4 linked regions of the Homo sapiens genome follow. The protein of the gene in region 3 interacts with the protein of the main gene of each other region in a pairwise test. Each region holds a gene or a part of one and is shown on either strand. Other genes may lie near its edges. The genes, in order: RUBCN, TCP10L, TCEANC and MYF5.

The links.
Region 1: the proteins of TCEANC (region 3) and RUBCN interact in binary tests that used the Homo sapiens proteins (3 or more experiments, as listed by UniProt).
Region 2: the proteins of TCEANC (region 3) and TCP10L interact in binary tests that used the Homo sapiens proteins (3 or more experiments, as listed by UniProt).
Region 4: the proteins of TCEANC (region 3) and MYF5 interact in binary tests that used the Homo sapiens proteins (3 or more experiments, as listed by UniProt).

What each region holds. Positions count from the first base shown.
Region 1 is NC_000003.12:197,733,129-197,742,130, forward strand, and holds the start of RUBCN (run domain Beclin-1-interacting and cysteine-rich domain-containing protein), read right to left. Parts: upstream 3,777-9,002; 5' UTR 3,592-3,776; coding exon 3,527-3,591; intron 1-3,526.
Region 2 is NC_000021.9:32,581,743-32,590,535, forward strand, and holds the start of TCP10L (T-complex protein 10A homolog 1), read right to left. Parts: upstream 3,782-8,793; 5' UTR 3,679-3,781; intron 2,564-3,678; 5' UTR 2,563-2,563; coding exon 2,419-2,562; intron 674-2,418; coding exon 458-673; intron 1-457. Other genes in the region: CFAP298-TCP10L (uncharacterized protein LOC110091775), read right to left, coding at 458-673. UniProt on the Homo sapiens protein: May be involved in transcriptional regulation. Has in vitro transcription inhibition activity. Acts as a tumor suppressor in hepatocellular carcinoma (HCC) cells.
Region 3 is NC_000023.11:13,663,141-13,665,909, forward strand, and holds the end of TCEANC (transcription elongation factor A N-terminal and central domain-containing protein), read left to right. Parts: coding exon 1-424; 3' UTR 425-2,269; downstream 2,270-2,769.
Region 4 is NC_000012.12:80,711,298-80,720,811, reverse strand, and holds MYF5 (myogenic factor 5), read right to left. Parts: upstream 3,901-9,514; 5' UTR 3,749-3,900; coding exon 3,248-3,748; intron 2,455-3,247; coding exon 2,379-2,454; intron 1,952-2,378; coding exon 1,761-1,951; 3' UTR 1,141-1,760; downstream 1-1,140.

The sequences.
Region 1 (9,002 bases), on a different chromosome or scaffold from region 3:
ATCAACTACTTAAGGAAAATACACTGAAAAGTTTCATCCTTCATTTTTAAAATGACACTACCGGCTGGGCACAGTGGCTCATGCTTGTAATCCCAGTGCTCTGGGAGGCCAAGGCAGCAAGATCCCTTGAGGCCAGGAGTTTGAGACTGGCCTAGGCAACATGGTGAGACTCTGTCACTACAAAAAATCTGAAAAAATTAAAAATTAGCTGGGAGTGGTGGCACACACCTGTAGTCCTAGCTACTGAGGAGGCTGAGGTGGGAAGATCACCTGAGCCCAGGAGTTTGAGGCTGCAGTGAGCTACGATTGCACTATTGTACTCCAGCCTGAGTGACACAGTGAGACCCTATCTTTAAAATATATAAATAAATAAATAAAAATGATGCTATCTCATCAAGAAGACTGTTTCTGAACTGGGTATTTCATTGGCCATAGAAAGGTTATGTTTGCAGTAACCCAGTCACAAAGCCTCAATTAATAGGCACAAGGAATGTGTATTTACCAGTTGTGTATCTGGAGCTAAGGAGGCCATCAGTACCATGAAGCCTCATTAAACAACGCATTCTGAATTAATCAGCCGCCAACACAGTATGCCTATAACAATGACGGGAGTGACTTTGTGAGGATAACCCCACTACTAAAATTAAGTTTTGATTAAAGTTTTTTGGTTAAGAGGCAATCATAAAAAGAATAAAAGACGGGAAAAGATTCTGCAAAGGAGCTATCCTACTGGCCTGAATGACAGGCACAGAATGCTGTGAAATTTATTCACTATCTTATACTTCCGTTGTTACTATTAGCATAGTGAGAGGCAGCATAGGGTGAGTATTAAAAGTACAGACTCGGGCCGGGCACGGTGGTTCACGCTTGTAATCCCAGCACTTTGGGAGGCGGAGGCTGGTAGATCCTCTGAGGTCAGGAGTTTGAGACCAGCCTGGCCAACATGGCGAAACCCCGTCTCTACTAAAAATACAAAAAATTAGCTGGGCGTGGTGGCGGGCACCTGTAATCCCAGCTACTTGGGAGGCTGAGGCAGGAGAATTGTTTGAACCTGGGAGGCAGAGGTTGTAGTGAAGCAAGACGGTGCCACTGCACTCCAGCCTTGGCGACAGAGCAAGACTCTATCTCAAAAAAAAAAAAAAAAAAGTGCAGTCTCTTGGGCCGGCATGGTCGCTCATGCCTGTAACCTCAGCACTTTTGAGAGGCCGAGGCTGGAGAATATCTTGAGCCCAGGAGTTTGAGACCAGCCTAGGCAACATAGTGAGACCCTGTCTAAAAAAAGAAAAAAAAAAAAAAGCGCAGACTCTGGTGCCGAACTGCCTGGGTTTGAATCCAGTTCTGCCAGGGATTCGCTGTACAACCTTGGCAAGTTACTTACCCTGTCCATTTCTCAGCTTTCTCATCTGTGACACAGCAATAACAGTAGTACCGACCACATACAATAGTTATAGGGATTAAAGAAGTTAACGCAGTATTCATATCTTAATACCTTAAAACAATTCCTGGCATGTGGTAAATAGCATTTGTTACATACATTAAAAAAATAACTAACCCAGCCTCCCTCACATGAAGTGGTAGAGGGAAATCAAAACAATCCTAAAACGTGTTTAGAATTTACATGGGACCTTTCACACGAAGCACGTCACAGACATCTGCAGGAAGAATAAATAGTCAAATAGGCAAAGCAGAAACTGAAACATGGAAAAGGGAAGTAAGATGTTCAGTTTCACTTAGCACAAATCATTCTCAGATCTCAGGCAGGAGCCCCAAAGTCCTGTCAGTCCAGGTTTTGTTCAACAGGCCACTTTGCACATAAAAGTAGAGTCACCCTTAAAAATAGCAAGTCTTCACCCAGGAACATCTCATAAATCTTCCCTTGTTGATATTTTCTCAGAGGTAAATATTCTGCTTCTAGTTTTTGGATCCCAGCTGCTCCTGAGACCATCATTATATCTGAAACTGTTTCTAAATGTCAAGTGAGGTCAGGCCTGGTGGCTCACACCTGTTAATTCCAGCACTTTGGGAGGCCGACGTGGCGGGGGAGAATTGCTTGAGCCCAGGAGTTAGAGACCAGCCTGGGCAATATGGTGAGACCCTGTCTCTACAAAAAAGTTTTTTAAAGTAGCCAGATGTGGTAGCTGGCACCTATATCCCCAGCTACTTGGGAAGCTGAGCTAGTATAATCGCTTGAGCCCAAGAGTTGGAGGCTGCAGTGAGCCGTGTTCACGGCACTGCGCTCAGCCTGGGGGACAGGGTGAGGCTGTGTCTCAAAAAATAAAATAAAAATAAAATAATAAATGTCAAGTATGACTCCCTTAAGCCACATTCCTGCTCTCGCCTGTCAGCATTCCAGCCTCTTTAAAAAAGATTAAGACCAGAGTTATTAATGAAGCAAACCCTAAATATGGAAGGCATCTCTACAGACTCCGATTCATCATTTAGTCAAAGTAGTTCGGGGTTTCTTTGGCTTTTTGTTTTTTGAAGACAGGGTCTTCCTCTGTCACCCAGGCTGGAGTGTAGTGGTGCGATCTCGGCTCAATGCAGCCTCGACTTATTGGACTCAAGTGATCCTCTCGCCTCAGCCTCCCGAGTAGCTGGCACCACAGGTGAGCACCACCACGCCGAGCTAATTTTTGTATTTTTGTAGAGACGGGGATCTCCCTAGGTTACCCAGGCTGGTCTCAAACTCCTGGACTCAAGCGACCCGCCTCAGCCTCCCCCAAGGTGCTGGAATTACAGGTGTGAGGCACCGCACCCGGTCCAAAGTAGTTTTTATATTTTAAATCCCCCAATTTCTAGAAGATATGAGCTTTCTGACATGGTTCCATATAAATAAATGTGAACTTGCTTAGTTTGCATTGTGAGGAAAAAGGGACAGGTTTGAAGACGAAAAGGAAATGGCACAGAGGTCCTGCCACTCTCTGACAGGGATTCGGCAATGACAAAGTGCAGAGTTTCTGGTCTCATTAGCAGTCCCCGCCCCACCGCACTGCCATGACACTCGCTCACTTTCTCCCCAGGCTCTCCTCGCCTTCATCCCCATGCTCATCTCTGCCTAAGCTTCTTCCGAGGCCACTCATAACGCTTCACCTCTGCTCCCAGGAATTCTCACATCCTCTTCGCGTTGGCCCCACTTGCTGTCACGGCAAGTTTCAGTCCGGGTGGTGCCCTGCCCCTGTCTATAGACTCTGGCCTGTAAAACCTCACTGCACCCCTCTGGCCTCTTCGCCCAGTCTCTCAGCTGCCACCTCCTCTCCAGCAGTCTTGGATCTGAGCTTCACCCTCCTCTGCTGCCCTTGCCCTCCGCAAATCCCACCCACCCTCCTCACCCTAAGCCGGTTCCTTCGTCCCATCCCCGCCCCGCCCGTCCTTCCTCTGCGAAATGCTTCCCAAACAAGTCCTCCGCAGCCGTCGTCCTCAAGACTCGTCGCGCCCGGCCCTTCTCTCCGTGACCCCGCGCCCTCCCAAGCCTCCCGGGGCTCCGGCGCCTGTCGCTGCCCCGACTCCGCGGCGGCTCCCAGCCCACCTGCTCTCCTCAGGCAGGCGCTCCTCGCCGCCTCCGAGCTCCATTCCCGCGCCCTCCGGCCGCATCCGGGGCGGTGAGGCCGCCTCTTCGCCCAAGAGAGGCGTCCCTGCCGCTTCGCCCTTCAGGGCTCCCGGGGCCCCCTGGGGCCGGAGGAGGCACCTGCGGCCGGTGGGCTCCGGGTGATGCGCTACACCCGGGCGGCGACAGCGGGAGGGACCGCCGCCTGGGCTGCGGCTTCTATCCCGGCCACCCCCACTTCCGGCTCCGGGGACTACAGCCCCCGGCGAGCACTCCGAGGCTAGGCCGCTCCCGCAGGACGCGTCCTCCAATCCCAGGCCGCGCTCGCAGACCGCGCCCCTCCAACGGCAGGCCGCTCCCGCAAGCCGCGCCCTCCAATCCCAGGCCGCTCCCGCAGGCCGCGCCCTCCAATCCCAGGCCGCGCTCGTGGATTACTACGCACCCGGTGGTTGGCTGGGCCGGCTTGCAAGCGGCGGGGGACCTTGGTCTCAGGAATCCGTGCCGGGGCGTATCCTTATTCACCCCCGTGACATTACACGCTGGGGACCGAACTCAGTCCGAGATGTAGACTAGGCAATAACGCTAATCTAATCCCGGTACGATTAACCCCACTCAGCCCGCCCTGGCTTAATGTCCGCTGGTGGTGTTTGGAGACCTCGAGCATTTAAATGAAGCGCTCACAAACAAGAGCACAGGTTGCTTTGGGATCATAAAAGAGCAGGAGAGAAAGGCTTCTGGGGGCTCTCGGAAGATGGATGTCAACGCAGAGTTTTCAAGGCTGAGTACGGGTTAGCCAGGAGAAAGAAGAGAAGGTGGAGAGAGCAACACGGCAGATACAAGGAAGGAAGTGCTGGCTTGGGAACTGCAGGTGCTGGGTAGCCAGAGCTGGGAAGGAGTGAGCAGCAGCATGGTGTGGGCATTCTGGTGTGGGGAAACCAGATCATGAAATGCCATTTTAAGGAGTTTGGATTTTATCCTGAAAACAATCAGCAAATCAAGCATATGCAAATCAAGAAGTGATTTGATCGAATCTGATGAGAAAGCCACTTTTGACAATGTGGACAGGAGATGGGGCAGATATAATACTATATTGAGGTAACGGTGGAAGGCTAGATAGGAGACTGGTCATCCTTATGGGGGATAACCAAGTAATGCTAAGAAGTGAAGCGAACCAGTTGAAAGAAACGTGGGCCTAGGGTTGCCAGATACTCTGGTTTCTCTTTTTTCTTTTTCAAAGACGGGGTCTCTCTCTGTCGCCCAGGCTGGGGTGCAGTGGCGCAATCATAGCTCCCTGCAGCCTGGAACTCCTGGGCTCAAGCAGTCCTCCTTCCTCAGCCTCCTGAATAGCTGGGACTACAGGTGCGAGCCACCACACCTAGCTATGATATTTTGATTTTTTAAAAGAAGCTAGGATCTGCATTTTTAAGCACTACTTCCAAATTTTTAAACGTTGGCAACAAATTTTTTAAACTTTCAACTTTGCACAGGCCAAACACAGCTTGTCTGTAGGCTGAAGGTGGCCCTTGAGTTGCTAGTTTGCAAACCCAGGCTTAAACTACAGCAGCGGTTGAAGAGAACAAGGAGGCTCAGATTACAGCAATGTGAAGGCAACAGAATCAGCACTACTCTATAAAGGACTGACTGTGGCAAGTGAGGGAGAAAGAGCGATCAAGAATAACTCCGTGAAAAACTAATGACTCTATATTAAAATAATATATGGCTTTTAGGTATTTTCAAACTTGACAAAAGTGTTTTGGCAATTAAAAATGAAATGAAAGAGCCTCTTGAAGCCATTTATGATTTCATTTAGGTTAAAAAAATACTCTCTTTCAAACTTTCTCATTTTCCTACTAAACGATTATACTTCTTTAAGAAAGGGGCAATATTACTCATTGGGATTTCTCTTCCTTCTGTGACTTTCTTCTCTTTTGGAGACGCAGTCTTGCTCTGTCACCCAGGCTGGGGTGCAGTAGCGCTGCCACAGTTCACTGCAGCCTCAACCTCCTCAAGCGGATCCTCTCACCTCAGCTTCCCAAGTAGCTGGGACCACAGGCAGTGCCACTATGCCCAGCTAATTTGTTTTTTTTTTTTTAATTTTTGGTAGAGACAGGGTCTCACTGTGCTGCCTAAGCTGGTCTCAAATTCCTGGGCTCAAGCAGTCCTCCTGCCTCAGTCACCCAAAAAGTATTGGGATTACAGGCATGAGGCACCATACCTGGCCTTACTTCTAGTTCTATAAATGTATGAACTTTATTTTTTGGCATACAGTATAATCCCAAATTAACACTATATTATTTATTTATTTATTTTTGAGACAGAGTTTCACTCTTGTTGGCTAGACTGGAGTGCAATGGCGCGATCGGGTTCAAGCGATTCTCCTGCCTCAGCCTCCTGAGCAGCTGGGATTACAGGCATCCGCCACCACGCCCGGCTAATTTTGTATTTTTTAGTAGGGACAAGGTTTCTCCATGTTGGTCAGGCCGGTCTTGAACTCCCGACCTCAGGTGATCCGCCGGCTTCGGCCTCCCAAAGTGCTGGGATTACAGGCGTACTAAAAAATACAAAAAAATTAGCCGGGCATGGTGGCAGACGCCTGTAATCCCAGCTACTCAGGAGGCTGAGGCAGGAGAATGGCTTGAACCCAGGAGGCAGGGCTTGCAGTGAGCCGAGATCGTGCTACTGCACTCCAGCCTGGGCGATAAGAGCAAGACTTCGTCTGAAAAAAGAAAAAAAAAAAAAGGCCGGGCGTGGTGGCTCATGCCTGTAATCCCAGCACTTTGGGAGGTCAAGGCGGGCAGATCACGAGGTCAGGAGATGGAGACTATCCTGGCTGACACGGTGAAACCCCGTCTCTACTAAAAATACAACAAAAAATTAGCCGGGCGTGGTGGCGGGCGCCTGTAGTCCCAGCTACTCCGGAGGCTGAGGCAGGAGAATGGCGTGATGAACCCGGGAGGCGGAGCTTGCAGTGAGCAGAGATCACGCCACTGCACTCCAGCCTGGAAGACAGAGCTAGACCTGGGCGACAGAGGGAGACTCCGTTTCAAAAAAAAAGGCAATCAGCTTTATCAGGAAATCCTAGGGGCCAGAAGCGGTGGCTCACGCCTGTAATCTCAACACTGGGAGGCCCAGGCAGGCGGGTCACTTGACACCAGGAGTTCGAAACCAGCCTGGCCAACATAGTGAAACTCTGTCTCTACTAAAAATACAAAGAAAAAATAGTCGGGTGTAGTGGCACACGCCTGTAATCCCAGCTACTTGGGTGGCTGAGGCATGAGAATCGTTTGAACCCGTGAGGTAGAGGTTGCAGTGAGCTGAGATTGTACCACTGCACTCCACCCTGGGTGACAGAGTGAGACTGTCTTGGGGAGAAAAAAAAGAAATCCAAAAACTAAAATTGTAGCAAAAAGGCTGGAAAACAGGCTTTTTCTCATATGTCCAAGTTCAAGTTACATGTACTGGATTTTCTTTAAAGCCATTAATAAACATGACAATAATCTGCACTAGCCATGCGTTACCTATCCCATCCCTCTACTTTCCCTCATAATCCTGAACCCCTTCTTTTGTTTTTTTTTCTTTTGAGATGGAGTCTCGCTCTGTCACTCAGGCTGGATCATGGATCCACTGAAAATACAAAATACAAAAAATTAGCTGGGAATGGTGGCAGACGCCTGTAATCCCAGCTACTCGGGAGGCTGAGCCAGGAGAATCTCTTTAACCTGGGAGGCGGAGGTTGCAGTGAGCTGAGGTCATGCCATTGCACTCCATCCTGGGCAACAAGGCAAGACTCCATCTTAAAAAAAAAGAAAAAGAAAAAGAAATTTTGTAGTATAATTGGCAAAATTTGAACATGAACCATAATTGGATAATAGTACAGCATCAATGTTAAATTTTCTAAACTTGGTAATTTTAGCATGGTTATGTTAAGGAATATCCCTAGAAATATATTCTCTTTCTTTTTTTTTTGAGACAGAGTCTTGCTGTGTTGCCCAGGCTGGAGTGCAGTGGCACAATCTCAGCTCACTGCAACCTGTGCCTCCTGGGTTCAAGCAATTCTCCTGCCTCAGCCTCCCGAGTAGCTGGGATTACAGGTGCCCAACACCACGCCCAGTTAGTTTTTATATTTTTAGTAGAGACGGGGTTTCATCATGTTGGCCAGGCTGGTCTCGAACTTCTGACCTCAAGTGACCTGCCCACCTCAGCCTCCCAAAGTGCTGGGATTACACGTGTGAGCCACTGCACACAGCCCTTAGAAATAGATTCTAAAGAGTCATAATTCCTGCAACTTTCTCTCAAATTGTCTAACAACAACTAATACCTCTATACAGAGAGAAAGCAAATGTGGCAAAACATTAATTGGCGAAGTAGAGGATATATGGGTATTCATTGCACTATTTTTGCAACTTTTCTCTACATTTGCAAGTTTAAAAAATAGTCAAGGTTCTGCTTTCATGGGGACCTAAAAAAATAGTCAATGATCTTAGTATGGTTTTGTTTTCTTATGACTGTATCCTGCTAAATATAACAAAAATTTTAGTGTTTCACATGGAAATTTTTAATCTTGTAATGATTAACTTTAAAGACAGTTTAAAATTAATTTATGTTTTCCCCATAGGTAGCATTTCTAAAAGTCTTTTAAGCCAATTTTGCCAAATGACCAATTCACTGACTTTACCAAATTTACTGATTTACCAAAATTCTTTTTCTGTTAGGCATATATAAAGCTTATAGTAGTTCATCTGATGAGATGATTTTAAAAGCTTTTGAAGAATTTTGCCAAGTTTTAATTACTTAGCTTTTATTCTGTCTTTATAGCAACATTTCCATCCCCTCTAAGCACTTAGTAGTGGTTCATTTATTCAATTATATAGGAACTGGCTGGGCACAGTGGCTCATGCCTGTAATCCCAGCACCTTGGGAGGCCGAGGTGGGAGGATCACTTGAGGTCAGGAGTTCAAGAACAGCCTGGCTAACATGGTGAAATCCTGTCTCTACTAAAAATTCGCCAGGCATGGTGGTGGGCGCCTGTAATCCCAGCTACCTGGGAGGCTGAGGCAGGAGAATCCCTTGAACCCAGGAGGTGGACATTGCAGTGAGCTGAGATCGCACCACTGCACTCCAGAGATTGCACCACTGCAACAGAGCAAGACTCCATCTCAAAAAAAAAAAACCCCAAAAAACTATATAGGAACACTTGCCAGCCACGAACGGTGGATAAAAATGTGTGCTTTTTCTTTTTTTTTGAGACGGAGTCTCGCTTTGTCACCCAGGCTGGAGTGCAGTGGCGCAATCTTGGCTCACTGCAACCTCTGCCTCCCAGGTTCAAGCGATTCTCCTGCCTCAGCCTCCTGAGTAGCTAAAATTACGGGCGCCCGCTGCCGCCTGGCTAATTTTTTGTATTTTTAGTAGAGACGGGGTTTCACTGTGTTAGCCAGGATGGTTTCGATCTCCTGACCTC
Region 2 (8,793 bases), on a different chromosome or scaffold from region 3:
CTACTGAGCTGGCTCTGGAGTCACCCTGGGTTCAAATCCCAGCTCTACGTTCTCCAGCCCGTGGCCACGATGGGGTTAGTAATAGGATCCATTTCATAGGGTCGTCATAGAGAGTAAGACCGTAAAGCTCCGTACCTAGCCCATGTAAAGTCCACAGTAAGGGTTTGCTGCTGTTGTCCTGAGACATCATGAGATGTCTTAGAATTCTGGACTTGAGACACACGGCCTGGGGGCGGCAATGCTTCTGTCTGCTGGAGTGCCAGGTGAGAGGCCTGATGTATCCAGTTCTTATTAATCATTACTTACGGGAAATGGAGTTGATGGAAAGATAGCAACCCCTCCCACCACCCGGAGCGTGAGTGATACCGCGTCATTCAGCAATAAAGCCCACATCTTTATGGGGACGCTATTTTTACATAACGCAAACGGTACAAAAACATAAATGCGCTTTTGGTACCAGAGTGTGCGATTCTTGCCCCGCGTGTGGGGACGCTGCAGATTTCTTCCTGGCTTTCCACCGCTGCAGCTGCAGAGCTCTCAGCTTTTCTCGGAGCTCCATGTTCTGCTCCCTCAAAGCATCTATATGACTCCGGAGTTTTCCATGAACATCAGCCCACAGAGACTTCTGTCTCCCAAGCTCTTGGTGGAGTCTGATGATCTGCTGCTGTAATGGCTGTTATTGGGAAGAGAACACCAGAAAAACCTCTCAGATGTCACAATGGGCACATTTATCTGCAAAATACTCAAGCCCTCTCTGATGTAAGACCAACACTATTTCTGGAATAAAAGACACCCGATGAGATAAACAGGACTACCACAGCCTTTTTCTTTCTTCTTTCTTTCCTTTCTTTCTTTCTTTTCTTTTCTTTTTTCAGGGTCTCACTCAGTCACTCAGGCTGGAGTGCAGTGGCATGATCTCAGCTCACTGAAGCTTCAACTTGATGAGCTCAAGCGATCCTCCTGTCTCGACCTCCCAAATAGCTGGGACTACAGGCATGTGCCACCATACTTCGCTAATTTTTGTATTTTTACTCGGGATGGGGGTTCACCATGTTGCCCAGACTGGTCTCAAACTCCTGGGCTCAAGCAATCCACCTGCCTCGGCCTCCCAAAGTGCTGGGATTACAGGAATAAGCTACCATGCCTGGCCATAGCTTTATTCTTATTAAGTAGTGTTTATTATGAGTTAGTCCACATAATATAACCAGATAAAGATGGTTAGTGAATTATGATTTTTTTGTTAAAACACTACTACAGCAAAAAGAGGCTGGCATTCTTTTCCTTTTTTTTTTTTTTTTTTTTTTTTTTTTGAGACAGTGTCTTTCTCTGTCACCCAGGCTGGAGTGCAGTGGCGCAGTCTCAGCTCACTGCAACCTCCACTTCCCAGATTCAAGCAACTCTGGTGCCTCAGCATCCAGAGTAGTTGGGATTACAGGCACATGCCACCACACCTGGCTAATTTTTCTATTGTTAGTAGAGACAGGGTTTTACCATGTTGGCCAGACTGGTCTCAAAGGCTGTACTGGCATGGATATATGGTCAATAGTTTAAAAATTATGGAAGCCGGCCGGGCGCGGTGGCTCACGCCTGTAATCCCAGCACTTTGGGAGGCCGAGGCGGGCGGATCACGAGGTCAGGAGATCGAGACCATCCCGGCTAACACGGTGAAACCCCGTCTCTACTAAAAATACAAAAAATTAGCCGGGCGTAGTGGCGGGCGCCTGTAGTCCCAGCTACGTGGGAGGCTGAGGCAGGAGAATGGCGTGAACCCGGGAGGCGGAGCTTGCAGTGAGCCGAGATCCCGCCACTGCACTCCAGCCTGGGCGACAGAGCGAGACTCCGTCTCAAAAAAAAAAAAAAAAAAAAAAAAAAATTATGGAAGCCACTGCATTTTCAACCTAACATGTTAGCCTTCCCCTGGGATCCTTCACTGGATCGTAGAGCCTCCAGCCTTGCTCTGAGAATAAGTGGGATCGTGATAAAGGTACAGTCCTGCACTGGGTGGCCCTGGCCACAGGGACCCGTGGGACTTTAATGACAGCAAGCACTGTCCAACAGGGTCCAATGAGGAAGATGGTAAAAATCAGGAAACTTGCTGGGATGATGTGAGGCATGTCAACTTTCTGATTTTCTTTAATGAAGTTTTTAAAGTCTGGTGCCTTCTCCTGGATTAGAGGAGAAAAGCTGGAATGTTAATATTTTCTTTAACTCCCTGCCCTGCCTCCCATCCACCAAGAGATACGGTTGCAGAGGGGGAAAGAGCCACATGCCCCTTGGAGAGGAAGTACAGAATCAGTGTCCCGGGGTGGTGCATTCCTACAGGGGTCCAGCAAGGGAAAGTCCAATGACGGGCCTCAGGGACAGGAATCAGGGTCCCGCCTGGTGGGACTAACTCTGTCCCCACAGAGCTCAACTCACTGGCATCTCCCCAGTGTTGCAGTCCTCCGTGAGAACCTCGGCTGCCACAGCTGTCTTCTCCATGACAGCCCCAGCTCCTGGGCACGGGTCCTCTGGGTGGGTGCCCTCTTTGGGGTCCCTGGCCTCGAGTTGACCTGCCAGCATCCTGGTTGGGAAGGGAAGGGCTATGGGGACACTTGAATGCAGCCCTCCTACCCCGTCAGTGTGGGCTGAAGGCCCCAGCCCCAAACTAAGGGTGAGCAGGACCCGCAGCCGCTCCTTCTCCCCCTGGGTCATGTGCACATTCCCAGGCCCGAAGCTGACCAGGTGAAAGGACACCACAGACAGAGGGACTGAGCTGTCCACACCTGGCTCTCCACCATCCTCCGTGGAAAATGCTTTAGATCCTAGAAGATCAGCCTGACACCTAACACACTCCAGTCATCCAAAGAGGGGTGTGAGTGGGGTGTGAGCCGGTGTGAGTGGGATGTGAGTGGGTTGTGAGCAGGATATGAGCGGAATGTGAATGGATGTGAGCGGATGTGAGCACGATGGTCTTGGGGTATGAGCAGGTGTGAGTGGAATGGTCTCAGGGTGTGAGCAGGTGTGAGTGGAGGGTCGCATGAGACACCGAGGGAATTCTCAGCCCTTTAATCAGCACCCACCTGGAGGGGCACAGGCAGACCCTCCACCGTGTTGAGTATGTGTCTTGAACCATCAGGGTGACATTTGTGAATTCATGGTGAAGATGTGGAAAGGAAACACCTTTTTATAGGTACAGCATTTATGCCAGTTCTAGGAAGTTCACAGCAATTAGAGAACAAAAACGAAAGAGAAAAACGCAAAGCTTTCCTGCAAGCCTGCAGGGTCGTCTCTGAAAGCTGCCTCCACCCCTGCCTTGCCCTGTCCGTTTTAGGAAGCCAGTGGCCCCCAACGAAACCCCGACTGTTTAATTCATAAACTTCTAACTGTGTGAGAAGGAACAGTTTAACCACAGTGATCGGAGAAATGCTATTTAAAAGAGAGTCTCCTGATGGAAGCGAATCGAAGGTCTAGAGCAAGACCTACCAGTAACCAGATCACTGCCATTCCTTCCCCGCGGAGACTGGGAATGTTTCTGCGGAAGTGGGCTGGGGTCACGGTCCTCACAGCCCTGAGAAAGCTCCTTCTTTCCTGCTCCTCTGAGGGGACACCCCAGTGTCCTCGGCCCCAAACTCATGACCCCCTCAGTCCAGGGAAGACCCTTTCCTTCAGCCCCACCACCAGACCTCGTCACCTCACCTGGTCCCCAACAGTCACTACTGCCAGGATCAGATCATCTGGGCCATGTCCCCACAGTTGTCCCCAAGCCCTCCTGCCTCATATCCAGAGACCAGAGAGCAGCGGACAGTTCCAACGGACTTTCTGTCTTAAAGGGACATGAACGTCTCACTCAGCGTCACCACTGTACCAGCTCAGATAATAATTAAACATCCCCAAACCTGCAATTCTTAATATAGAAGCTCATCGTCAGTGGAGTCCATCCATCCACAAAGGACATTGGAGAGAGTCAAACTACTCCTCCAAATTGACAAAAACCATGTGTTTTATATCCAGTCTTCAATACGCAACGTGTAGTAAGAGCTCATTTCTCTGAGCATACATTCTTGGAGAAATACAAACTTTCTTCGGATATCAAATTATTTACTAGAAAAAACATTTTTATGAAGGGAAAATAATATATGTGAGTTTAAATAGGAGACAGGATTCAAAGTTTCATCATTTCACTAAATGCATCTCCATCTGAATTGTCCGTGTGATTTTTGTGATAGAGAAGAGAATGAGGAGCAAGCAAGAGTCGATATTCCTGTTAAACCCTGGCTGTCCTTCTCATCCATGGTGCTGCGTGTGGACAACATACACCTGGGGCTCACCTGAGCCTGCTTGGGACGTGTGTCACTTGGATAGTTCTGCAAGCGATTCGCATGCAATAGGCAGTAAATGCCGACGTCATGAATGAATGAAGAGAATACTACAAAGAGGAAACAGAAGGCACTTTTGTCCCCATGTGTCATTCTAACTGTGAGAGTGTGTGTGTGTGTCCTGAGGTGTGCGAGTGTGTGTGTGTGTGTCCTGAGGTGCGTGAGAGGTTGTATGTTTGTCCTGAAGTGTGTGAGAGTTTATATAGGTTTCTGAGGTATGTGAGGGGTTGTGTGTGTCCCTGAGGTGTATGAGGTGTGTGTGGGTCCTGAGGTGTGTGAGTGGTTGTGTGTGGGTCCCTGAGGTGTGTGAGAGGTTGTGTGTGGGTCCTAAGGTGTGTGAGTGGTTGTGTGTGGGTCCTAAGGTGTGTGAGAGGTTGTGTGTGGGTCCTAAGGTGTGTGAGTGGTTGTGTGTGGGTCCTAAGGTGTGTGAGAGGTTGTGTGAGTCCTGAGGTGTGTGAGAGGATTGTGTGTGAGTCCTGAGGTGTGTGAGGGGTTATGTATGGGCCCCTGAGGTGTGTGAGGGGTTTTATGTGTGTCCTGAGAAGTGTGATGAATTGTGTGGGTCCTGAGGTGTGTGAGGGTTTGTGTATGAGACCCTGAGGTGTGTCAACATTGTGTGTGAGACCCTGAGGTGTGTGAGGGGTTGTGTGTGGATTCCTGAGGTGTGTGAGGGCTTGTGTGTATGAGCCTGAGGTGTGTGGGTTCCTTATATGGGTTCCTGAGGTGTGTGAGGGGTTGTGTGTGTGTCCTGAGGTGTGTGAGGGGTTGTGCTTGGGTCCTGGGGTGTGTGAGTGGGTGTTTGTCCTGAGGTGTGTGAGAGGTTGTGTGTGTGTCCTGAGGTGTGTGAGAGTTTGCGTAGGTTCCTGAGGTATGTGAGGGGTTGTGTGTGTCCTGAGGTGTGTGAGAGGTTGTGTGAGTCCCTGGGGTGTGTGAGAGTTTGTGTAGGTTTCTGAGGTGTGTGAGAGTTTGTGTAGCTTCCTGAGGTGTGTGAGAGGTTGTGTGAGTCCCTGAGGTGCGTGAGGGGTTGTGTGTGTCCTGAAGTGTGTGAGAGGTTGTGTAGGTTTCAGGCTTTGCAGCTCCCCTCCTGAGCCTCAGCCGGGCGGCTCCCAGGGCAGGGTCCCCCCATCCCTGTCTCTGCTGCGGCTCTCTGTGTGTTGCTCTTCCCGGCCTGGCCAGGACATTTTCTTCATTGAGTCTTCCCCAGATTCTCACCCTGCAGCAACCACGTGCGGCAGCAGGTCAGGGCGGAGGCTCCTGGGCGTTTGGACTGTGGGGCCCTTCTCTTCTCTCTGATAAGGCCCCGGTTTTCTGTTCAGCCTCGCGGTGCCTTAGCCGCATTTCAGGCATGGTCTTCCAGGGCCCTCTGGTCTGAACATTCTGTAGAGGAAACCACGGCACACCTTTCACTCATCTTTTAAAATCAGAAGCCAGTTCCTGAGCTGGCTGCTTGGAGTAGCAGCAGATACACTTTTTAAAGTAGCTTATGTGTTTAAATTTCTGGTTCAAAGGACTACTTCTATAGTGGTACAGACCCTGACAAAAGAAATCACCTTTTCTAAATATCATCACTGCAAATGGGCAATATGACCTGGGAACTGGTGAGATGCCATTGAGATTGGAGCCCACCCCACCAGAGCTGAGTGAATTCTTGGATGACTAAATGTCGGAATAAGTTAGGGAGGGGTGCATGTCATCCAAAGAATGACATGAGCTCACTCTGTGCCTCAAGTGACACAGATCATAGTAGATTCCAGCGAAATACTTGCAGCTGTGTTGAGTTCCTCAAACTACCACAAAATTCTTATGGCAAAACTTGTGAGAGGTGAAGATAAGAGAGTGTGAGCCCTGTGATCGAATCCAAATATGAATTGTAAAATATGCCTTAATACTATTACCAGTAGCTGTAGTGTACAATGATAGAACCAAAAGATAAAGATTTTCGGCCGGGCATGGTGGCTCACGCCTGTAATCCCAGCACTTTGGGAGGCTGAGGTGGGCAGATCACAAGGTCAAGAGATCAAGACCATCCTGGCCAACATGGTGAAACCCTGTCTCTGCTAAAAATAAAAAAATAAAAAAAATTAGCTGGGTGTGGTGGCACGCGTCTGTAGTCCCAGCTACTTGGGAGGCTGAGGCAGGAGAATTGGTTGAACCTGGGAGGTGGAGGCTGCAGTGAGCCAAGATGGCACCACTGCACTCCAGTCTGGCGGCAGAGTGAGACTCCATCTCAAAAAAAAACAAAACAGATAAAGATTTTCTACTCATTTTCTAGTTGTCCCGTCAGTGGTGCATTTCAGCACACTCAAAACTCCATGTTTCTTTTGGATTTTATGAGCTGAGTCTGAATGTTATAAGTGACACACTCCTTTTTTTTTTTTTCTTCTTCTTGTGAGACAAGGTTTTGCTCTGTTGCCTAGGCTGGAGTGCAGTGGCACCATCTCGGTTCACTGCAACCTTGACCTCTTAGGCTCAAGCAATCCTCCCACCTCAGCCTCCCTAGTAGCTAGAACTACAGGTTCACACCACCACACCCAGCTAATTTTTGAATTTTTGGTAGAGACAGGTCTCGCTATATTGCACTGGCTGGTCTCGAACTTCTGGACTCAAGTGATCCACCTGTCTCAACCTCTTAAAGTGCTGGGATTACACACTCTTTAAAAATGTTCTCTGTACAATATTTCGTAAAGGTTGAGAATAAGGAAAGACATTGCCCCTTTAAGCAAAGTGGTAAGGCAACATATAAAAACGACTCAATCCACAATAGTGAGAATTTCCGTTAATTACATTCTAAAGTTTTTTTGTTTAAAATGAATTGAGGGAGTACAGTATGCTCTTCAAGATAATGAACAGAGAAAAATGCCCAATGACTGCTAGCCATCCCAATAATGTATTTACTCTACGTTGTGTTATTTTGTTTCTGCAGTAGGACCCAACTGATTAGAAAGGAAATTACATAGTCAGTGACCAGCTGAGACTGAGTACGGACAGAGGAAGAAGCTAACTTACATCTAAAGAGACCTGAAGTCAGGAGACATTTCTAGATAAACCCCTCAGCCAGATAACATCAACCCATGACTTCCAATACCATTGCTGAAGAGGTCACAGAGGAGAGAGAATCCTGAGAAGATTTTTAAAATCTGAAAGTTCTTGTATTAAAAGAAGTGGGAAGTTTCTTGGTATGTGTATGAAGCCTAAGATTGAGATAGTGGTACTGAGGGTGGCATGATACCCCATTGAGGCTGGGAGTTTTATTTCTTTTAAGTCTTTCTGTAGGTATACCTCTGTGGGTTCCTGCCACTTCTAAACCATAGTTATAAGGCCAATAAATACATAAAACAATCTTCCTACTGCTCGCAGGCACCATGCTCTTCCTAATAGCTCTATAAGAACCCTTTATTGCTCGTGACCCTGTGTCCACATTATGCTATCTGATTATTCATAATTTTTCTCGGATCTGCTTGATATGAAACATGGATACAGCCATATTTGAAGGAACATGTTACAGGAAAAGAAACCCCGACCTCGGAATCTGAGGATTTGTATAATTTGGACTTTACACAAAATAATTATGTAATTTTGGGCAAGTCCCTTAATACAGTATTTGAACTCAATTTTATTGCCCCTTTTAGGTCTAAACTCTCAGCTGTGAGTACTAATTTGTGGCGTGATGGTGAGGTGAAATGGCAGAGGCCCATGGCACATCATTGCAGAATATGCGTTAGACTTTCACAAGTCATCAGTCATGAATTTCAGGATCTGGCTGCTTGTCTTCATGGGAGACGTCAGGTACAGCTTGCAATTAGCTAAGGGGTTCATCTTACAATACCTCTAATTACTGCTTTAGCTAAAAGCCCCCATGAAAGACACAAGTTTACCACATCATATGAACCCATGGTAAATATTTTGTGACCTGATACTTATCCAGTCAGTGCTCTGTTAGCCAGAACTAAATAGTTGCCAGAAAAATGAAAACTAATATTCATAATACTGGTCTTGAAATACTACAAAATCATGGGACAAAATCAGCTAGTCGGGAGACTGGAGTGGGAGGATCACTTGAGCCCAGGAGGCAGAGGCCGCAGTGAGCTGAGATTGTGGCACTGGACTCCAGCCTGGGTGAGTGAGTGAGACAATGTCTGAAAAAGAAGGAAAAAGAAATAAAGAAAGAAAGAAAGAGAAAGAAGAAAGAAAGAAAGAAAGAGAGAGGTAGGGAGGGAGAGAGGGAGGAAGGAAGGAGAAAGAGAAAGAAAAAGAAAGAAAGAGGAAAGAAAGAGAGAGAGAGAAAGAAGGAAAGAAGGAAGGAAAGAAGGGAGGGAGGGAGGGAGGGGAGAGGTTTGAAGAGGCTCACTCTGCCTGAAGACAGGAAGGGACCAGGAGCCGAGGCGCTCTCAGCCCCAGAAAGGGCAAGGAAGCAGAGCCCACCTCCAGCCTCCAG
Region 3 (2,769 bases):
CCTTTATTCAAAGAACATCAAAAAATATAAAACTTGCATCAGAAGCAAAGTTGCCAATTTGAAGAACCCCAGAAATTCTCATTTACAACAAAACTTGCTCTCTGGGACCACGTCTCCACGAGAATTTGCTGAAATGACTGTCATGGAGATGGCAAATAAGGAACTGAAGCAGTTGAGAGCCTCCTACACGGAATCTTGTATCCAGGAACATTACCTTCCCCAAGTAATTGATGGCACACAGACAAATAAAATAAAATGCAGACGCTGTGAGAAATACAATTGCAAAGTCACTGTAATTGACAGAGGAACACTTTTCCTTCCCAGCTGGGTGCGGAATTCAAACCCAGATGAACAAATGATGACTTACGTAATTTGTAACGAATGTGGGGAGCAGTGGTACCATAGCAAGTGGGTGTGCTGGTAACTGTAAATCAGTGTTCTCTTAACAGATAACCGGAGTGATACCTTTTATTTGTACAACCCTTTTGTGCTTTTAAAAATCTTATACACACTACTCTCTAAAACAGAAAAAGGAGGAAAGAAAGTCGTTAGCTGAAGCTGCCACCACCATCCCTAAAAGTTACAGTTTGGGGAGAGGGAGTGGATGACTATTTATATTGTGCCTTGTGGCCATTTAGTACCTTACTGTAGACAGAGTGTGGGTGAGAACAGCCCAGCATAAACTGGGAGACTGTGGGAAATGCATTCCCAGGCCTCACACCATTGAATCCGAATCTGCATTTTGACAGGATCCCCAGGTAATCTTCCAGGATAGGATAGTTTGAGAAGTGCTACTTTAGCAATAGGCCTGTGGCTCTCAGCAGTGGCTGCATATTAAAATCATCTGGGAAGCTTTGAAAACCCACTGGTGCTGAGACCCCACCCTAGAACAATTCAGTTGGAACCTATGAGATGGGACCCAGGCATCAACATTTCTTTTTTCATTCCTCAAGTTATTTTAAGATGCAGTCAGAGTTGAGAACTACTCAGAAATAGGCTCTCATTTGATCCTTTTTACAGCTCTAAGACAAGAATGTTATTCCAGGCACTTCACGAATGAGGAAACAGGTCCACAGAGGTGTGGTGACATGTCCAAGTGACACAACCATAAATAGTACCAATTCTGACAGATCCCAGATTTTCTCCCTCCTGACTCACTGAGACTGGCTCAATATCGACTTCTGAGAAATGTATTCCTGGAGGTCGGGGACAAAATGAAGAATGTGTTTAAACTCCAACATTGGGTGACTAGATCTTCATTCTTTTCCCCTCTCTTTTCTCATTTATAGGTCTCCCTTCAACCACAAAAGTCACCCTGGAACTCATCCCGCAGTTAGAATTTTGTTTGGAGCCCTCTTGCTTAGTTGAAGGAGTTTCGTAGTTGTTTTTTGTTTTTGTTTTTGTTTTTGTTTTTTCCCCCTGTGAACAGGTTTTTCGGGGGTATGTAAACTCTAGGATGTTTAGTTTCTGATGTCAGGAGTCTTCATGTTCTCAAGGACAAGTGTCCTTGAGATGGACATTAATGGTCATTAGTCTGTCAGAGGAAGCCCATCACTTTAGCCTTTGAATGTAGTAACAGACGTTTATCTAATAAATGAATTGAAGATAAAATTACCTCTTTGAGGCCTTTGCAAACAGTGTTTAACCAGTTTATATAATTGTTTGACTACAACACGCCTTCTATGTGATTATGGCTGATTTTTTTTCCTTAAAAAACTCATGGAATGTTCACCGTTTTATAGTTTTAAAAAGTTTACTTTGGCGGTCTCTACAAACCTACCATTTCACTTTCTCACCAGTTCTTTTCTCCTAACTCTCTTCCTTTGTTGGAGCTCTGAAGGCCTAACTGTGTGTACACTTTACCTGCCTGACAGAATTCTCCAAAACATGCATAAAAGTAAAATATGTTCGTATTTTCAAATAATTTGGAAGAGTCGGCTCAATGCCATCAAGTGTAAAATCTATTTTGATATACTTGCTCTCCGTGTCTTCCCAGGGCTGCTTTTTGTGATGCAACATGTTTAGTCCTTAACTTGCAAGGTCATCTAAAACTTGAAGTTTCACAAAGTGTGGTTTCATATGACTTGGAATAATCTGAAAAACTATTCAGTGGTTACGAAAGAGCACAGCACATAAAAACCAAATTTGATTAGTTCAAGTCGGTGTTTATGTTTTGCTTTGGGGGTTTGTGTGTATGTGTGTAGTTTTTATTTATATTGGAATTTGGCAAACTAAATGTTCAGACAAATAAAAGTAATTAAAATGGAAATTTCCTTACTCTCCAAAATATAAAAACCTTCATGGTCTGGCCGGGTGCGGTGGCTCATGCTTGTAATCCCAGCATTTTGGGAGGCCGAGGCGGGCGGATTGCCTGAGGTCAGGAGTTCAAGACCAGCCTGGCCAATATGGTGAAACCCCGTCTCTACTAAAAATACAAAAATTAGCTGTGCATGATGGCGGGTGCCTGTAATCCCAGCTACTCGGGAGGCTGAGGCCGGAGAATCACTTGAACCCAGAAGGCAGAGGTTGCGGTGAGCCAAGATCACGCCATTGCATTCCAGCCTGGGCAACGAGAGAAACTCCACCTCAAGCAAACAAACAAAAAAACCAATCTGCGTGGTCTTCCTCATTTCATTTCATCTTTATTCGTGAGTTTTGCAACTTGAGATAGGAAAATAGTAATCTGTGTGTTTTTCTTTTGGTTAATGAGACAGCATTACATTTTCTGCCTATAGGTAATTCTTTCAGATCCTATGTCCTTTCCCCTAA
Region 4 (9,514 bases), on a different chromosome or scaffold from region 3:
CACTCTGAAATCATGAGTAAAGACTTATATCTGTGTGCTAAAAGTCAGCGTTCCCTGTCAGGCCATGATGCTAACAGAGTGACAGTGGCCATCATATTTTTTAACTCAGCCCTTATACCTCCCTTATGGAATGATTCCCATTCCTTTAAGCTTCATGACTGCATAAGCATGAGCAAATCACACCAGAGAGAAAGAGAAACCTTCCTGAGAACAGTAGCATTGCCAAGCTCTAGTAAAGAGTCTGTATGCTTTTTTTAAATTAATGTATGTAACCACAAATCCTTAGGAATTTTAAATCAATGTACATATAAGAGGATTAAACAATTATCAATATTTGTTCTCTGTGAATAGCTACTTTAGATACTTTAAGAATCTCTTTTTAAAATCTCTCTCAATGGTAAACTTGTGATAATTATCCCAATCATTGTCTCAACCTAATTTTCCACTTAATTGTTCAATTTTTTCATATCAGTTCTTTCTAGAGGAGATTTAGGGTGATGAATATGAGACAAGTCTGTTTTACATACACACATGCACACACACGCATACATGATATGATTAATACAATAAAGTTTAAAAGGCTGTAAAAAGAAGGAAGAAAACTCAAGTCTGTCTCACTTCAGTATAATTTGTGTAAGTTTTCTTATGTTGGCACTCTAGCAATATAAAAAAAATCAGCCCAATACCTTTAAATATTTTATTGACAATATTAGTATATATTATCAAGATATTTTCAGGCAGGTAGTAAAAGTAAATATGATTTAACTCATGCCTTCTGTTGTACTATAGTTATTAAAATGATGTGATGTTGTATAGTCTTTTTTAAAAAAGCATGTGTTACTGTCCTGAATAACCTCTATCTTCCCTTCACACACAAACGACTTGATAGTATATGGTACAGTTCTAAGATAAAGGAAAAGTTTCATTTAGCAGGTTCACTTGAAATATATTTAAAATGAAAATATGACATTTTCACTTGTGACATCAACAGGACCTAAACTGGGTACATGAGAATGGTAAATATTCAGACTTATCTGAAAAGCCAACTGTTTAAGTATTTTCAGCTCACATGTAAAGATTTCATGTCAATGAACAGTAATTCCATTGGGGTGTTATTTTAAAAGATCATGAGCCAAAATATTTCTTGTAGTAAAAAATTTTATTTATGGTGGAATTTCCAAAATTTCTTATATCTTGAAATGATCCACAAAGTACTATTTTGTGCTTACATTTAAAAGATACATTTCTTACAAGAAAAGATCAAAATATATACATTAGGCAGTATTATATTTTTATTTAATACAATATAACTAAAGGATTAAAGAGAAAAGAAATAGTTAAATATATTTAAAATTCCATTTAACTGATTCTCAGCTGTTTTAATGTTTTAAAGAAAAAAATAAAGCTCTAAACACCAGAGACATTTTGATGAGCAATATTTATAATATATATATATGTATATATAAGTTAAGCATTGCAACAAGCTACCCTCAATCAATGGCCCCCTATCAGAAATAGTATTACTGGAACTATGTATTAATATCTAAGCAAAGAATAATAAAGAAGAAGAAAGTATTATTTGCAATGATGACTTTTTAGTTAAATACACTTTCTTATAAAGTGGCAAGGTAATCTTTACAAATTTACAACTGAAAAGAAATCTTTATGTACATGTTGTCTTGGTTTGGGACTTTTTGAAGCCTTCTTCTTCCTGTGTATTAGGCCCTCCTGGAAGAAGTCATATAGACCAGAAAATTAGTTCATAGCACATGATAGATAAGCCTGGAACTAGAAGCCCCTGGAGTTGCAGGCTGTGAATCGGTGCTGGCAACTGGAGAGAGAGAAGCCAGATCCTGGAGAGGCAACCCAGGTTGCTCTGAGGAGGTGATCCGGTCCACTATGTTGGATAAGCAATCCAAGCTGGATAAGGAGTTTTTATCTGTGGCATATACTAAGGATACAAGGAGAAAAGCATTAAAAAATAATTAGCCCAAGATAGACAGATTTGCTTATGTTGCTCCTTAAATTGTAGGTCAGCTCCTCTGACACCCAGAGGTCAGGTGGTCACAGAAAGCCTAACATAGAAATTTGCAACAAATATCTGGCAATTCCTGAGGGGTAGACGTGGGGAGTGGGGAAGCCCCCTGATAATATTTCAAGCAACATTGTGTGTGCATGTGTGTATGCATGTGTGCGTGCGTGTCTGCTAGGGGGATTTGGAGCAGAAGATGTGTTTATTTTGCTTTACCAAAGCCTCCCTATAAGAACCATCACTTCCATTCTCCCTTCCCCAATACTATCAGCAAGAACAGAATCTTATAGGCTGAATTGTTAGGTTGAACTGGTCTTTAAACTCCTGTGAAGTTATCAATTCTTACCATTTGATACATCAGGACAGTAGATGCTGTCAAAAGTACTGCTCTTTCTGGACCAGACAGGACTGTTACATTCGGGCTATAATACAAGACACACAACAAAGTTTGTTTTCAGGTCTTGGCAAAAGATGTTCTGACCAAAGGTGAGGCTGTGCTTGCCCACCAGCTCTGTAACCGAACACTGTCAATCACCTTCACTGCCTTGATTTAGGAAGGGCTAGCCCTCTCCAAATTCCCAGGGCACTGAGGTCAATCTCTGTGCTTGAAGAAGAGGAGAGCAGCAGCAAAGGGAAGAGGGGGTGGAATTCAGCAGCAATGTGCATTGGGTTAACCATGCAAAATGGATTGGAGTAGAAGAAAGCCACACTAATTCAGGGAAAGAACACTTTCCCAGGGCAAAAACACATTAAAACCTGGCAGCCTTGGAGCAAACGCCCTCTAAAAAGAATGCATCAACATCTTTCAGCCAGGCCTCATTGGAGCAGGAACTGGGGCCGTGTGGGTATTTCTTTCCATTTCCTCATTAAGTTAGAAACGGTGCCTTTAGATATTAGCGTAGGGCATGATCCACAGATGGCATATTTTGAAAATAAATTCAGGAATGGAGAAAACATCTGAGTGATCATTCACAGCCACCCATCTTCCATGTCAACACTCGATTACAGTGTACACCTAGAACCTGCTAGAAAGTTAAACTAAAATCTTGTTCAGCAGCGGTTTGGGGAGTCTTTCTAAATGTGGACCCCTCTCTTCTTTTAAAGCAACTCAGCATCTGCCTCCACCCCACTCTCCCCACCACACCAGGTTAAATGAGGTGTAAGGACTTTAGAAAAGATTAGGGTAGCCTAGCAGGTACCAGATCTATTGCTTACCATGCCATCAGAGCAGTTGGAGGTGGGGCTGGTGGGCTCCGAGCAGCTCTGTCCCGGCAGGCTATAGTAGTTCTCCACCTGCTCTCTCAGCAACTCCTGCAGGCTCTCGATGTAGCGGATGGCATTCCTGAGGATCTCCACCTTGGGCAGCCTCTGGTTGGGGTTGGTCGTGGTACACCTCTTGAGGGTTTCGAAAGCCTGGTTGACCTTCTTCAGGCGCCTCCGCTCGCGCATAGTGGCTGCCTTCCGCCGATCCATGGTGGTGGACTTCCTCTTGCAGGCTTTGCAGGCCCACATGAGGCAGTGACCAGCCTGGTGGTGGCCGGTAGGCGCTCGCACGTGCTCGTCCTCATCTGAGCCCTGCAGCTCTGCTTTGTGCGCTCCGAAGGCAGCCACTCGCGGCACAAACTCGTCCCCAAATTCACCCTCGGGGGACGGTATGCAGGAGCCGTCGTAGAAGTACTCAGAAGGTGAGAACTGGCAGCCATCCATCACGTCCATCCTGCTGAGAGGCAGGCGGTGCACCTGGACGGCAGCGAGAGGGATGGGGAGAAACGGGAGCCTGGCGCCTCCGCCGATGGGCAAATCCCGGGCGGAGCTCCCTAGTCTGTCGCTCCGGTAATTAACAAGGGCAGACGCCTGTTGGCCTGGGTAGACAAGCTGGGGTTGGGGTTCTTTATATATTCTTTCGGGAGGGAGGCCGGCCCCAGTGGCCAGGCACTATTAGCATATCCCACCGCAACCCCCGCGGGGGCTGTCTGGACAAACCTCCGCCTTTCCTCTACAGACAATCTGCTGTGTACTGCCCCTTTTGACGCTAATGGTTTTACTGTATTTCTGCTGGGGCGGCAGTGGGTCCCCAACCTGCTCATTTGCACTCTCTAGATAGGCTAAAACAAGGGATCACTTAAGGAGTGTTTCACACAAAAGTGACCAAGGCAGTCCAACTTTTTGCAATTGGACACACATTTTAAAATAGTGGTAATAAATAGAAATCCCTTTCAGCTGGCACCAAGAGCCGACCTGCCCTCCCAATCCTGGGCGTGAGGAATCACCTGATTTGGGGGTGTTTGTTTCTCTTTTTCATGAACTTCAATTATCTCGAAAACTTTTTCCAGCAATTGGATTGAATAACGGTTACTAAAAACTTGAAGTGGCATTTTCAATCTTGGAGTGAATACAGGGTTTGCCTTTCCAAATCTATTTTGTATAGCTTCAGATGAGTAAAGTTTTGCTCAGATTGTCATTTATTCTAGGCTCTACCTTATTGAGAGTAGGGAGGGAGGTTCCTTTTCCCATGACTGGGCTTGCTCTGAGTTCTCCCTGTATGTCTGCTCATCTAAAAGGAGGTGGGGCACAGGAGGGCCAGGTGACCAGGAACATTCCTCCCGTTCTTGCTTCCTTCATTTTCCCCTTCTGTACGTATTTGTTGAGCACCTTCTCCTTTGTGCCAGGCCTTCCCTAGATCCTGAGCAGGCCAAAGACCTGCACTGAAAGTGTCTCTAAGATTTCCAACAGAAGAAGCCCAGTTTTCGACGGCAAACTCCCTTTCCAGGGGTGAGTCTCCTTTCTCCCTCTCTTTCTGCTCCGCCCTGTCATTTCTACAGACTAAACAGCCAAGCTGGGCTTTGGGGTTGCTAATTTTCTGCTTTCAGGCAAACTAACACCGTTACAGATGCGTCCCAGCTGCCGCCACTGCAATCCTTGACTCGTGTAAAATTTCCAACTCCTCAAACCAGGAGTAACTTCACACACTTCAGTGACAAAAGCCTTCCAGAAAAGCAATCACAGCAGGGTCTTTAGAACTTCGATGGATAGAAGGCAAGAGGGGAGGGTTGTCATTTAAGTGGGAATGAATCTATTAATCAGCTTTTACCAATCCTCCTCCAACCTTAATCCACTTTCAGGTTATTTGGGTTGGGGAGGTGCTGTTTATATTTAGGAAAAGCAATTACTTAAGGTCTACACAATTAGTCTTGGGGTTTTGGACTAGGTCTTGTGGCCCCGTTGAAAGAAGCAGGAGTGTTCTCAACTCAATCTAGGGTAACCCAGTTCAATAAATATAGTGGCTCCGAAGTTATTGCGAGGAGGAGGGAGTTTTCCTTCCTATTATTATTATTATTTCTTTCAGTGAATGGTACTTTGTACTTTTTTTTCAGAATTATTTTCTTAAAGCAACACTGGTTCATTGATCCAGCATCTTCAGGGGCCAGAGAAGTAGCAACCTTTTCAGGGTGCGATCTCTCTAAAGTGAAGACCTTGAAAACCAGAGGTGGGAGAGTGACACTGTCAGTCACTAAGGTTTGCTAGCCACACCATTGCTGTCTCCTCTCTTCTGTCCTGTCATCTCTAAGAAAAAGATCTCTCCTGAAAATCAGGTTCCCTCTCACACCAATGGGCTGCTTAATCATCTGACCAGTGGGAAATCCATCTGCACCTTTTTTAGGGCTATTAACAAGTCTATGCCTTTGAAATGAATACGGTATCCAGGGCTACGCCAGATAAAAAGAGGCAAGTTCAAGAAGAACCCAGGTGGAAACTAAGATGCCATCCACGCTGGTGGAAACATTCAAATGCACAGCAAATGCAAAGCACATTGCTACCTCTGAAATACAATAGTGGGTAGATATCCTCCCCCAGGAATTCTCAGCCAAGTCCCACAGTTTCTATTAGCAGCCATATGACCACTTTTTTATTTTTTTGGCTGTGGAGTCCACAAATTAGCTCGGACTTGTGCTTTGGACACAAATAAACTTGGTCTTTAAAGTTTGAGTGAAAGTTAGAGGTTACGCTTCTGCTCATCTTTCAGCTAATTTCTGAAAGCACTTAACGTGATTTGTACTCAAGCCCCTCAGCGCGAAATATTTTTAACTAACAATTATTGAGAATTTTCTATTTGCCCCGCACTGTTCTCAACCCTTTCCTTAGATTAACTTAACAATTAATACTCCAAACCACCCTGTGGGAGCTATTATTGGGCCCATTGTAGAAAGAAAGTAAACTCGAGCTCCAGGGACTAGGTTATTTGCCCCAAGGTCATACAGGATTGGAAACTAGGCATCCTGTCATTATAGTTCCTACTCCTAGAGGTGATTTTGTTTGTTTTCTTCTTCAATTAATTTAGGCTCCGTGCGCTTCCTTAGGGCTCCAGAGCAGAAACTCGCAAAAGCTGGCTACTCAACATCTTTCCCTGGCTCCTGTGCCTGGGAAGACGCCGTCACTCAGGAGCCTCTGTCAGTAAGGGTAGTTCTCAGAGGTTAGAGCTGTCTCTGGTAAGGTGATCTCAAAACAAAGTTACCAGAGTGCCGCGAGCGAGTGGAACTAAAGAAGCCGAGAAAACACAAGCGCCCGGCGGCTTAATGGGACTTGCTAGCAGGAGAACAGGGTCCGGACTTGAGAGCCCTTGGGACGCAAGTGCTGAAAATAGGATCTCAGAGTACCAAAGTAAAAAGAAATAAGACAAAACTTTTAAAACGCTGTCAGGGGCGAGAGAAGAAAGAGAGAGAGAGAGAGAGAGAAAAAAAAAAGGCAATATGCTAAGACAGTAGGCAGCCAGCACCACAAAGATGGCTACAGTGTCCCAATTCAGGAGCGGTCTCCCTGCTCTTTTCCCAGGGGAGACCTGGAAGGGGAAAAAGAAAGAACTGGGTGAGCAACATAGAGAAAAGCATTTTTTTTTTTTGAGTGGGTTGGCCAGGGAAGCATGGGAAAAGTTTTAAAAATGGCTCTGAAAAGATCTACTCAGGGCACCCTTTTGTACTCAAAGTCGGATTAGATTGGCTTTTGCTCCTCACACAAAGAATGAAAATAAGTTTTCCACTATTTCTGCAAAGAAGTGGATTTCTTGCTTGCGGAGAAAACGCACATTTATTTCATATGTAAACAGGTTATTAGAAATGACACTCCAACACTGTCTGCTAGGAAAGTCTAACCATAGGTAGTTGAGGGGAAGAAAACCCAGTCACCTCTGGTGCTATAAATGGATACCCACTAAGGCTCTGGTGAAGTATTTATTTATTTATTTATTTCATTTTATATTCTGAAAAAATAAATACATTTGATTTTCTTACAATTTAGAATTATAACCAGGTTCTAACTGCAATGACCTTTACGTAACATCAACTTTTTTTTTAAGTGAAATCTGTGTTAGTTTAAGCATTATGGCAACACACTAATATTGATGGACAGATCACACCAGCAAAATGATGCTCATACCTTCTTCTTCTAATAAATTTTGCCCACCCTAGGCTTTCTGCATTATTGAAAATTCTCTATGCTTTTCTTGGAGGGAGAAACCAAATACATATAGAAGGATACATACATTCCAATTCACTTCTGCCCCTGCCTGCAGATCCTTATCAACTCCTGGACTAAGGGAGTTGTTCTTGATATTTTTTATATTATAGATGACTTCACAATGTGCTCAACAATTGCAAATTGCTATTAGCTCTGGGAATCAGGCACACCTAAGTAAACACATTAGTACCTGCCAGAGCTGCTGGAAGAATTTGTGAAGACAGCTGAGGAAGACATTGGCCTCTGCTTGAATTAGAGGACTTCCAGGAGAGATCAAAGGCCTAAGTAAGGACATTTAGCAGCCTTGAGAGTACAGAAAGTAGCCAGTTCTTACAGCATTATCTTTGTTCCAGCACATGGCATAGCCATTCCATCTCAGACTGACTCTGAACTAGGCTTGCAAAAAAATTGCTTTTTTCAGAGTGAAACCTCTATGATGGAGGATCATCTTTTATAAGTGTAATAGTTTAAGGGAGTGACTGGAGGGGCCTGTCAGAGAAATAGCTTGGTGGTTTGGCTCTTTGAGAAAATACTATGTTATTGATAATTTATCAATGCATTGGATTAGGCAATTAGATATTCAAAGCTTAAAAAAAATGTCAAAAAAAATTCCAGCTATGGTGTTGTGGGAGAGCGATTTTGAAACGACAAAATGGGATAAAATATTACTAGAAGAAAAACACAACTGGGTAAATTCTAACTTTAGTAAAAAAAAAAAAAGTCTTAATAAGGATAGAGATCACTTTCAGCATCTCAAGATTTCTCTGCTAGTTTCAGAAATAGTTGCAAACCCTAAATTCCAGCATTCCCTCCACTCCCAAAACAAATGCAAGAGTTTGAGGAAAAATAAATGAGACTGTTAGACCTAAGAGGATTTCCAGTGTTCAGGCTTGGAATTCAGTGATCCAGGTATTAAAATTAGTATGAAAGCTGGCATTTGATTTTCTGCAAATTATTTCTGTAGTAATATAATAAAGAAAATCACTCATTATTTTGTACTTGATAACTTTATACCTGCCTCTGGAAAGAGGCTTGAATTTAATCCCAAATTGCTTATCTTTACCAAGTTATTATGTCTTGATTATCTGCTTCCACAGCCCTGTTTATTTTGGCTTTGGCCTCAGTAAAGATTATCATCATTAATATCAAACAAAAACATTTTAATTGCAAACACACCAAGGATTTCACTGGAAAGCCTAACATGTCATCTGTAGCAGTGGAGGTCACATGAAGTCTTTGGGAAATATTTGCTCTATTTAATGAAGAGACTTCTATAGGCAAACTTATTCCAAACAATTTCTCAAGTTACCCAGCTAAGAGAGATAGAGAGGATTTGGCTTGCAAAGACTGAATAAAATCCATCAACAAGTAAAGTCCACGAATTAATAAAAGCATTCTGCTGTTGAGCCATTTATAACACAGATCTTACTATAAGTATAGGCTAAATTATAAATTAAATGAGTTCACCTAATCAGTTACATTATTTTGTGTTGCATAATAAATTTGAATTTTAAAAATAGAAGTGTGCATATATACAATTTGGGGAAAATCCCTATTGATTCTCAGGGAGAAAATGATGGGCATCTAATAAGCATAATTAATGGGCATAGACACTACCCAGACATATTCACACATGTTTTGGTTGGATAATTTGAAATGCTTTACCACTTATTTTTTTAAGTTACTGCTCTAATTTGGAGTTCGGTAGCTAGCCACTCTTGAGAGAGAGCTTTTAGAAAACAAACGCCAAGGAGAGCCAAATTTTTCCCCAGACCATAAAATGTTGCTTATTAATTTCCCAAGGCAAGCTGGGCTCAGTGGTATGGGCCTGTAGTCCCAGCTACCTGAAAGGCTGAGGCTGGAGGATCACTTGAATCCAGGAGTTCAAGCCTGGGCAACAGGGACACATCACCCCTTAAAAAGAAAAAAAAAAGGAGGAAAGAAAGAAATTAACAATGTGCCAAGGCATCT